Homo sapiens: one gene and its partner. The protein of the gene in region 1 interacts with the protein of each later gene in a pairwise test. Each region holds a gene or a part of one and is shown on either strand. Other genes may lie near its edges.

Evidence for each region. The genes of interacting proteins can lie anywhere in the genome.
Region 2: the proteins of CTDSPL (region 1) and FGFR2 interact in a two-hybrid assay, tested with the Homo sapiens proteins (one study listed by BioGRID and IntAct).

What each region holds. Positions count from the first base shown.
Region 1 is NC_000003.12:37,864,018-37,869,629, reverse strand, and holds part of CTDSPL (CTD small phosphatase-like protein), read right to left. Parts: intron 1-5,612. UniProt on the Homo sapiens protein: Recruited by REST to neuronal genes that contain RE-1 elements, leading to neuronal gene silencing in non-neuronal cells.
Region 2 is NC_000010.11:121,477,578-121,481,728, forward strand, and holds the end of FGFR2 (fibroblast growth factor receptor 2 isoform 1 precursor), read right to left. Parts: intron 2,537-4,151; coding exon of another isoform or gene 2,474-2,536; exon of another isoform or gene 2,445-2,473; coding exon 2,280-2,444; 3' UTR 2,094-2,279; coding exon of another isoform or gene 2,004-2,093; 3' UTR 755-2,003; downstream 1-754. UniProt on the Homo sapiens protein: Tyrosine-protein kinase that acts as a cell-surface receptor for fibroblast growth factors and plays an essential role in the regulation of cell proliferation, differentiation, migration and apoptosis, and in the regulation of embryonic development.

The DNA.
Region 1 (5,612 bases):
AGTCAGTGCAATAAAGCAAGAAAAAGAAATAAAAGGCATACAAGTCAGAAATGAAGACATGTAAGTGTTCTTATTTGATGACACGTTTGTCTATGTGAAGGACTTCAGGGAATCTATAAAAAGCCTCTTACAACTAATAAGTGAGCTCAGCAAGGTCATAGGATACAAGATAAGTATTCAAAAATCTTTTGTATGTCTGCATGTTAGCACTGAACACGTGGGCACCAAAATAAAAAATAAATACAATTGATAGTCGCTTAAAAAATAAACACTCTACAGCATTGTAGGATAACTATGGGCAACAATACTATATAGTTTTAAATAACTAAAAGGAGGATAATAAATGCGCCCAACACAAAGAAATGATAAATGTTTGAGATGATGGATATGCTAATTACCTTGATCTGATCACTACGCAATGTGTTTATATGATTATATACCCTATAAATATGTAAAACTATGATGTATCAATTAAAATATGTATAGTTTAAAAAGAACACTCAGATGTAAATCTAATAAAATATTAATAGGACTTGTATGCTGAAAGCCTAATGGCAGAATCAAAGATCTAAATAAATAGAGAGACGTACTGTGTTCATGGATTGGAAGACTTAATCTAGAAAAGATGTCAGTTCTCCTCAAATTGATACACAGGTTTAATTAAATTCCTATCAAAATCTCAGGAAGATATTTGTAGATATAGACAAGAGTATTGTAAAATTTACATAATGTGGCAACAAAACTAGAACAGCTAAAACAATTTTGAAAAAGAACAAAAGTTGGAAGCATCAGTCTACTCTATATCATGACTTATTATTTAGCTACAGAAATCAAGATTATATAGTATAGGCAGGGGGATGGACATATAGATCAGTGGGACAAAATAAATAAACCCAGAAACAGACCCACATAAATATGCCCAACTAATTTTTGACAAAGATGCAAAAGAAATTCAAAGGAGGAAGGACAGATAACTTTTTCAACAAATGTAGCTGAAGCAACCAGACACTCAGAGACAAAAAACCAAACCAAAGTTTCACGCCTTATTAAAAAATGGACTCAGAATGGATCATGAACTTAAATTTAATGTAAAATTATAAAACTTGGAAAAAGCGTAGGAGAAAACCTTCGGGATCTAGTGCTAGGCAGAGAGTTCTTAGATTTGACACCAAAAGCACAATCAATAAAAGGAAATATTTATATATTGCACCTTATCAAAATTTAAAACTTTTGCTCTGAAAAAGGCTCTTTAGAGGATGAAAAGCCAAGCTATAGGCTAGAAGAAATACTTGCAAACCACATATCTGAAAAAGGACTAATATCTATAATATATAAAAATTCTCAAAACTTGACGGTTTAAAAAAATCCAATTAGAACATGGGCAAAAGACATGAAGGGACAGCTCATCAAAGAAGATATATAGAAGAAAAATAAGCACATGAAAAGATGTTCAACATCATTAGCCATCAGGGAAATGCAAATTAAAACCGTAATAAGCTACCACCACATATCAGAATGGCTAATATGAAAAATAGTGAAGTGATAATTACTCAAGGTGATGGATACCCTAAATACCCTGACTTGATCATTACACTATTCTATGCATATAAAATATCATATGTACCTCAGAAAAATGTACAAATATTATATATCAGTTTTTAAAAAAGAAATGAAAAAGGTAACTCAAAGGAGTTCCTTTGTGGTGACAAACGAGTTCTGTAGCTTGTGATGGTGGCTATACAAACATAAATGTGTTAAAGATGCATAAAGCTACAAAAAATGAATTCATGCAAAAACTGGTGAAATGTGAGTAAGGTCTGTAGTCTAAACAACTGTATTTGCCAATGTCAATTTCCTGGTTTTGATAATGAAATATACAATTATATAAGACGTTAGCGTTAGGGGACACTAGGTGATGGGTACATGGGACCTCTCTGTATTATTTTTGCAACTTCTTTCGAGTCTATAATTATTTCAAAATAAAAATTTTTAAAAACAGTGACAACACCAAATGCTGGTGAGGATGCAGAGAAACTGGATCACTTATACATTGCTGGTGGGTATGTAAAATGCTACATTTACTCAAGAAAACAGTTTGGCAGTTTCTTTAAAAAGTAAACATGCAACTACCATATGATCCAGCAATTGCACACTGGGCATTTATCCCAGAGATATGAAGACTTAGGTTCAAACAAAAACATGTATACCAATGTTTATTGCAGCTTTATTCATAATACTCAACATCTAGAAACAATGTACAGATCATTCAAAGCGTGAATGGTTAAACAAACTGTGGTATATCCATGTCATGGAATACAATTGAGCAATTTAAAAAAAAAGATTAATACAAGGAACAACCTGGATGAATCTCCAGATAATTATGTTGAGTGAAAAAAAGCAATTCCAAAAGATCACATACTGTTTGATTCCATTTAGATAATGTTCCTAAAAAGATAAAATTTTAGAAATGTAGAGTGGATTAGTGGTCACCAGTGGGATATGGAGCAGGGTGGGCATGGGAGGGAAGCAGTGTGACTCTGAAGGGCAACAGGAGGGATCCTCCTGATGATGAAATTTTTCTATACCTTGACTATATCAATGTCAACATCCTGATGTGATACTATACAGTTTTACAAGATGTCAGTAATAAGAGAAACCGGGTAGAGGGCATAGAAAGTCTCTGTGACTTCTTAAAACTGCATGTAAATTTACAGTTATCTCCAAATAAAAAGTTTAATATAAAAAAGTTAGTCTGAATCTACTATAAATCTGCTTCTGTCATCTGAAATAATTATTGCTTCCAAAAGTCTTCTCTTTGCTATAATTTTGTTAGCAGCCCAAAGCTTAAAGTTTCTGAATTAACACTGAGTATTACAAACATTTAAAGGAAACACACCTAGCACCTTAGGCAAAAATATCTGCCCAAACAAATTTTCCTGCAGAAATCTCATCAAGGACACATATTAGCTTACAAAATAATTAACTGTTTAGATGTCATTGATATGTTCTTGCTAATACTGCATACTAATTGAGATTTTTTTGGTTTTATTATTGTTCAATTCCCTCAAATTATTTCTTTCCCTTCAAAGAGCTATGGGAAATTTCTTTTTTTAGTTAAAAAATTTCATCTGTAAAATGAGTATATTTCATTAATATTTAAACAAAAGGCAAAGTTTCCTCTCCCTAGAGGAATCTTTGTTGTCCAGTCTTCTCCCAGAGGAATATTTGTTGTCAGCTTATTTCCTTCCATATTACTTTTTCTGTATTTCTAAACAAATATACAGTTGTGTGTATGTGTGATTTTTTTTTTACAAAGGTAGGAACCATACTGTTTATACTGTTCTTCAAAATTTTTCCTGCTTTAAAATGTCTTGAAAATTCACCTATCTGTATGTTTAGATTTAATTTAGCTCATTCTTTTCAACTGCCTCACAGTATTCTGCTAATGATGTATCATAGCCTAACCATTCACCTACTGACACTTAGGATGGTTCTAATACTTGCTATTGCAAGCAATGTAGCCATTAAGTGAAAATCCTTGTACATGTTTCTTTGAGCACAAATGAGGTTATTTCTCTAGAACAGAAACTCAGAAGTAGAACAGGAGCTTTCAATGTGTGGTCAATACTGCTGTTTGGCTGAACCAATACCTGTTCCCACCTATTTTCAATCTTCTCCCCTCCTGCCTCCCACAGCAAAGGCTGGTTTAAAAGCTGGAAACTCACTTTCCTCACTCTGTTTGCAGCAAGGGGTAGCCATGTGGCCTGGTTCTGGCCAATTAAACATCAGCAAAGTTTTCTGGGTGGTCCCTAGGAATGTTTTTGCGTTTCTGCTTTCCAGGTAAAAGGAATACACAAGACTGGCACTCTTTTTCCAGCCCTAAAGGTGGCTGTGGTGTTTGGAAGGGTGGCAGCCATGCTATAACATGAGGGAAAACCAGGAGAATCACTATGATGTTGGCCCTGGTATCAATGAGTTGCTGAAAAAGCTATCAGCAGCCTACCTCAGACAGCTTATTATGTGGGAAGAATAAACTCCTATTGGTTTAAGCTGCAGTAAATCTGGTTTTCTGTTACTTGCAGCCAAATGTGTTCCTAATTGATTCAGTATTAAATTACTCTCTAAAAACTCTGTACTCACTTTATTCTCTCACAAAAGTCTATTAAGTCATTTTCCAAACCTTTGTCTACTTTGAACATTGGCAGTCATTTAAATGTTTAACCAAGCTGATGCATGAAAAGGTTTCACATGAAGTAGAGCACAATTTCATATATTTATTGGCCATTCAGATTTCTTCCTCTACGACTTTCTTGTTCCTAACTCTTGTCCACTTTTCTACTGTACTGTTGGACATTTTCCTATTAATGTGTAAGAGGAAATTTCCAGATTGCAAAGTAGGCTGAGTTAAACTTACAGGGAAATTTGTCTCTTTATCTTGACATTATCAACCAAATCAAACACAACTGTAAGATATGAGCATTCTGTGACAGGCCAGGCTGACAGTGACAGTCATCTCTGAGTTGTGCACCACCACGTGGCAATGTGTCAAGAAGTAATTCAACTTGGTGCAAAACACCACAGCCCATGCTTAGTACTTCCTTTGTAAATCTGTATCTAAAGAAAGATTTATGGAATCATGACACAGTGGTGAACCAGGCAGAGTCTTTAATGTACATCATCTCTTTGAACCCTCAGGTCACACCCCAGAGGTAGTCATTACTATTCCTATTTTACAGAATAAATGATGAAAGTAAACATGTAAAAGCAATAGTTTCTTCCCTATTATAAAACTTAAATATTTAAAATATTCCAGGCCCAATATTTTTAAAACAAAATAATTATCTCAAAATAAAATTATGTAAAATACATTTTTACATAATGTAAAATTATGTAAAAATGTATTTTACATAATTTTATGTGCCCATCTGAAGATATCAACATGCTTAAGCTAGAAACATTGCTGAACCGGTTTACTGGTTTATAAATCTGAAGAAATTATTCCAACATTTGACTCTAGAGTTTATTGCGACATTATAGGTAACCAAAATTATTTCCATTTTTTAAAGTGAAGAACTAAATTGAGTAGGATTTCAATGCTTCAGCAAGAAGGACCTACTAGCCAACCACCCCACCCCAGGGCTGCAGGTAAAGAATTCCTCTAATCGGTTAACAAACAACCAATCTGACACTGGCAAACAAAATAGGCTGCTAAAGATAATAAAAGATTGTCATGAAAAGTAATGTAAACAAGTTGAATAGAACAAGCACTATCCTGGAGTATTTGTACATGGTTTGGATTTTGGATAGATTGATTCTTTGTTTTAAAAATCCTAGCACCTAGAGGAAAAGGGAAAGTTGGCAGAGCTCCTGCTCCTGCTCCTGGAGTCAGGTGGGGGGCAGCAGGAGGTCTGAGGCTCTGACAAATATTTCCCTGCTTTGTGCCACACCTCTCCTCAAAGAGCTGTGGATTCTCTCTGGCAAAGCATCACACAAAGCACTCAATCCACAGCTGGTAAGGAGCACAGGAAGCAAACCTCCTTGATGCCTCCAACCAAACGCTCCCTGAGGGCACACACCCAGCCAGGGCTCCAAGAACTAACAGCCCCTATGGC
Region 2 (4,151 bases), on another chromosome or scaffold:
CTAGGCCACTCCCCTGATGGCTGGTGACACCTTGCTCCACCATGAATGGCCTCAAACAGAAAGAAGACCCCAAAGACAGCACTCTTTACCAATGGCCCTGTAAGGTTCTAAGAGCCTGGCTGAAGTGCAGGAGAAGTTGGCCTATGTTCAATTCCCTTTCCTGCTGCTGATGAGGCTGGCAAGTAGATACAACAGACCCTTAAGAGTCACAGATTCACATTTGTTAACTGACAGGCAAAACTCCATTTCCCTCTTCAGATCGTTGGTGGTATGAAAATAAATAATTATTCGAACATTTGTCCAAGTTTTCTTTTGGAAAATTTGAAGCAAATCCTTCTCTCCATACATCATGAAGAAAACAGCCTAAAAGGTTTTTAAGTCCCCAGGATTCAGATGTTCTGAACGTCTTCCCTACTCAATACCTGTCATCCTTAGGTCACCTTCCAGTTTGCAAAGCTCTCTACCATGTGGCTCTTTGTTTGCTCCTCTGGGGAACTGGTAGGGCTCAGAAAGGAACGATGATTCCATTGAGGTGCCAGTAAGCAACCGAGCCAGGGCTCCAACCAACTGATTCAGATTTTCCACTGGATCAACCTCAACCTGTCACAGGTACTGCTGGTCTCAGTCAACCCCTCTGGCAAGTCACCCCCGTGTGTAGCACATAAGACCCTTGGCAGCCCTGCCCTTCCTGCATTCACAACAGCACTCAGTCAGCACCTCCAAGCACAGGAAACCATTTGGTAAGACACGAGTATTAAAAAAATAAGTTGCGTGACATTTATTTTGTCTTGTTAACATTAATATCTGTAGAAACATTTTTATTGTCAGTATAAAAATTAACAGGTTTTATTAAATACTTTCTCCAATTTTGTAACACATAAGATCAGTGTAATCTGCATTCATCTTGCACGGCTATTGCAAAGTGAGTGGGTGTTTCCAAAGCAAAACACAATACTTTAGTACAGAAGGAACAACGGCGATATTTTGTCTGATGTAGGTATGAGGCTGGATCTTTTGGTGAGGTCCTGCCAGAATTAGATGAAAGCAATCCCTTAAAAAGATGGACGTATCCCCAAAACTATCAGCAGAACAACTCTGTGTTTCAATTTTCTATGATGGGACTTGAAGATCCTAACAGGCGTCTCCAACGCCAAAGAGTCTGGAAGCCATTATCAAAATTCACTGAAGAGAATACAGGCTAATCTGATTAATGTGCAACTCAGAAGCAGAAGGCCAGCTGCCAGAGAGAAGCACATTCTGCTATCATTTCAACTAAGGTCTGTCCTCAAGGAATGGATTAAGGCATCTTTTAAGAGGACGCTGGTACCATTTATCTTGGGAAGTCCAGTTAGACGTTGCGTTGACGTAATGACAGGGTTGCACACCAAAATGAAACACCTTCCTATGAATGAGTTCTTTTAATATGGGGCATTTAGGAGGTCTAAGAACAATCGTCTGACAGCAGCATTTAAACACAAATAAATCAAAACTTCATTTTCCCCAAATTAGTCATATATTGTAAATATTCTCTTTTCAAAGGATCTGATAACTAGTTAAGTCCAAGCAATAGATTAACTAGTCTGCTGTGCTGCCTGCATAGAAATGCCACTTAAATTACAAAAAAAACTATAAATGATTAATTGTTTTGTATATTACCAATTTATTAATAAATTAACGTTATACCATTTTCCCTGAAAGCAAAAGTATTTTTCCACCTCTGCTCGGTGAAAATTAAGAAATTATGTGTAAGAACAGCATTTAGCAAATAGCTATTAAAAAAAGAGAGACCAATTTTCTAGGTGCATTGGGACATCCATTTAAAATCAATACAAAAAATAACTCCTTGTAAATATATAATATATATTTATACATAATTTGAATATATTTACATACATCCAGCACCTATATACTGCATTTGTGCTCTGTAAGTGTGTGCTGACATAAATCTTCTCCAATTATTACAAAATTAACAAGGAAGGCAGAACGCACGTCCACCTTGAGTCCTACTGGTCCACAGCCAGTACGCACGGCAGGTGAGAGGGGTTACATGGTGGCTTGTGGCAGTCCACTGCTCCAGAAACCTTCTTCTCCTCCTGGGGAAGATTACAAGTTTTCAACTGTATAAATCTTTACACATATGCTGATTACTTTTCCAATTATTTACTCCTCTGATCCATATATACAAGTGGAGACAACAAGCTCTGGGAGGCATGGTCTCCCTGCTCAGTGTAGCTAGGTTCCCAGTGCTGTCCTGTTTGGGGACAGGCAGACACAGTCATTCATGTTTTAACACTGCCGTTTATGTGTGGATACTGAGGAAGGCATGGTTCGTAAGGCATGGGGTCTGGAGAAAAAACAGAATCATCTCCTGAAGAACAAGAACTTCTTGTGTCAGGGTAACTAGGTGAATACTGTTCGAGAGGTTGGCTGAGGTCCAAGTATTCCTGAAAGAAGGGAAGAGAGACGTTTTATTTCATCTTGGGTCAGGATAACAAGGTGAATACGGTTCGAGAGGCTGACTGAGGTCCAAGTATTCCTGAAAGAAGGGAAGAGAAGAGTTTTATTTCAAACACAAACTCTTGAGATGTGGGTATTGGACGTGGGACAGGACAGGAGACCCCTAGAAGGTGAACAGAGACCCAGCCCACCTGACTTCCACGAAGACCTCCCTGAGACCACGTCTGATGTACCCCAGGCTGTCCTTAGCTTTTCTCTTGGAATCCATCATAAATCAACTATTGACAGGTAGAGAACAATAAAACCTAGTTGAGCTATAGGTGCTGGGCAGGCAACTCGGCTTCACACGGACCTAAATAACCCGCTGAGTCTACACCACCTCCTCACTAGAGCCCTTGCTTCAAATGCGAGCCCCAGCAAAATGAAAACCGGTAACATGTTGTGGGTCCCCAGACCCCCTTTAAGTAGTTGAGACTATGAATATTTATTTTCTGAATTACATTTTACTATTGTAGTTTCGGGGATAATTGAAGGGGAATACTTCTTCATTCAGTGGGTAATTTAACAGATGTAACTGATTACTCTCAGAAGCTCTCCGAGTTGAAAATGTAAACAGGTTCAAAAAAGGCTTAGACATACTCATGTATGTTAAATCCATAATGCACTGTTAAAGGAAACTTCAGGAAAATATCGGTTAAGTTTCAAAGTTTTGAAGGTTCGAGATTCAGAAAGTGTCCTTTGCTCCCCAAGGCATCCAGTGCTGGTGCTGCAAAAAGCCCTCTGGATCACCCCAGGGTGACACTTCCTCCGACTTGGGTGCCCACAGACGACTTTGTATGGCCTGAGGGCTAAAGATGGTCTTTAACATTGGTAAGCGGTTGAAAAAAAAAATCAAAAGAAGAAGAATATCTTATAGGATTAAAATGAATAAAATTTATATACAATTATATAAAATTCCAATTTCAGGATCCATAAAATTTTACTAGAAGACAGACTAGAACACATCTATTTACATATTGTCTGTGGCTACTTTGAGGCTACAGTGGCGAAGTTGCAACAGAGACCACAGGGCCGGCAAAGCTGAAAATATTTACTCCCTGGCCCTTTACAGAAAGCAGTTGCCGACCCCTGTTCTGAAGCTATGAAAAGCTTTCTAAATTGGGAACTTGTGGGTCTCTCTGCCTCCACTGGGCTGGCACAGTGGGGCAGTTCTGCTCACACATCCAGAAGCCAACAACTATTCTATGACATGTGGTTTTGCTGAGAGGGGGCAAAAAGTGCAGACCACAGCACAAACAGCCTCAGTGTTATCAGAAAAGAGCCCATGGAATGTTGGCAACTAGACATTTTTAAAGACACACACACACACACACACACACACACACACAAAACCCTCTAATTCATCACCAGGGTTGGCAAGAGAAAGAGTCCCCATCCCAGCATCCCAGAAGGGGAATGTATCAGTTCCAACAACATCAGCATTAACCACACAACTGGAAACAAACACGCCCACCACATCAAAAGAGAACTTTTTGCTTACAATGATAAAAACGAAATTTTGTCCTAAATGGAACCGTTTTTCTTGAGCATATGGTAATGATTTTCAGAAGGAAAGAAACTTCGATTTTTATATCCACCAGACAATATGGCATTCTGCTTTTTTATTTTAGGGTACTAGATACAAATTTCAGTAT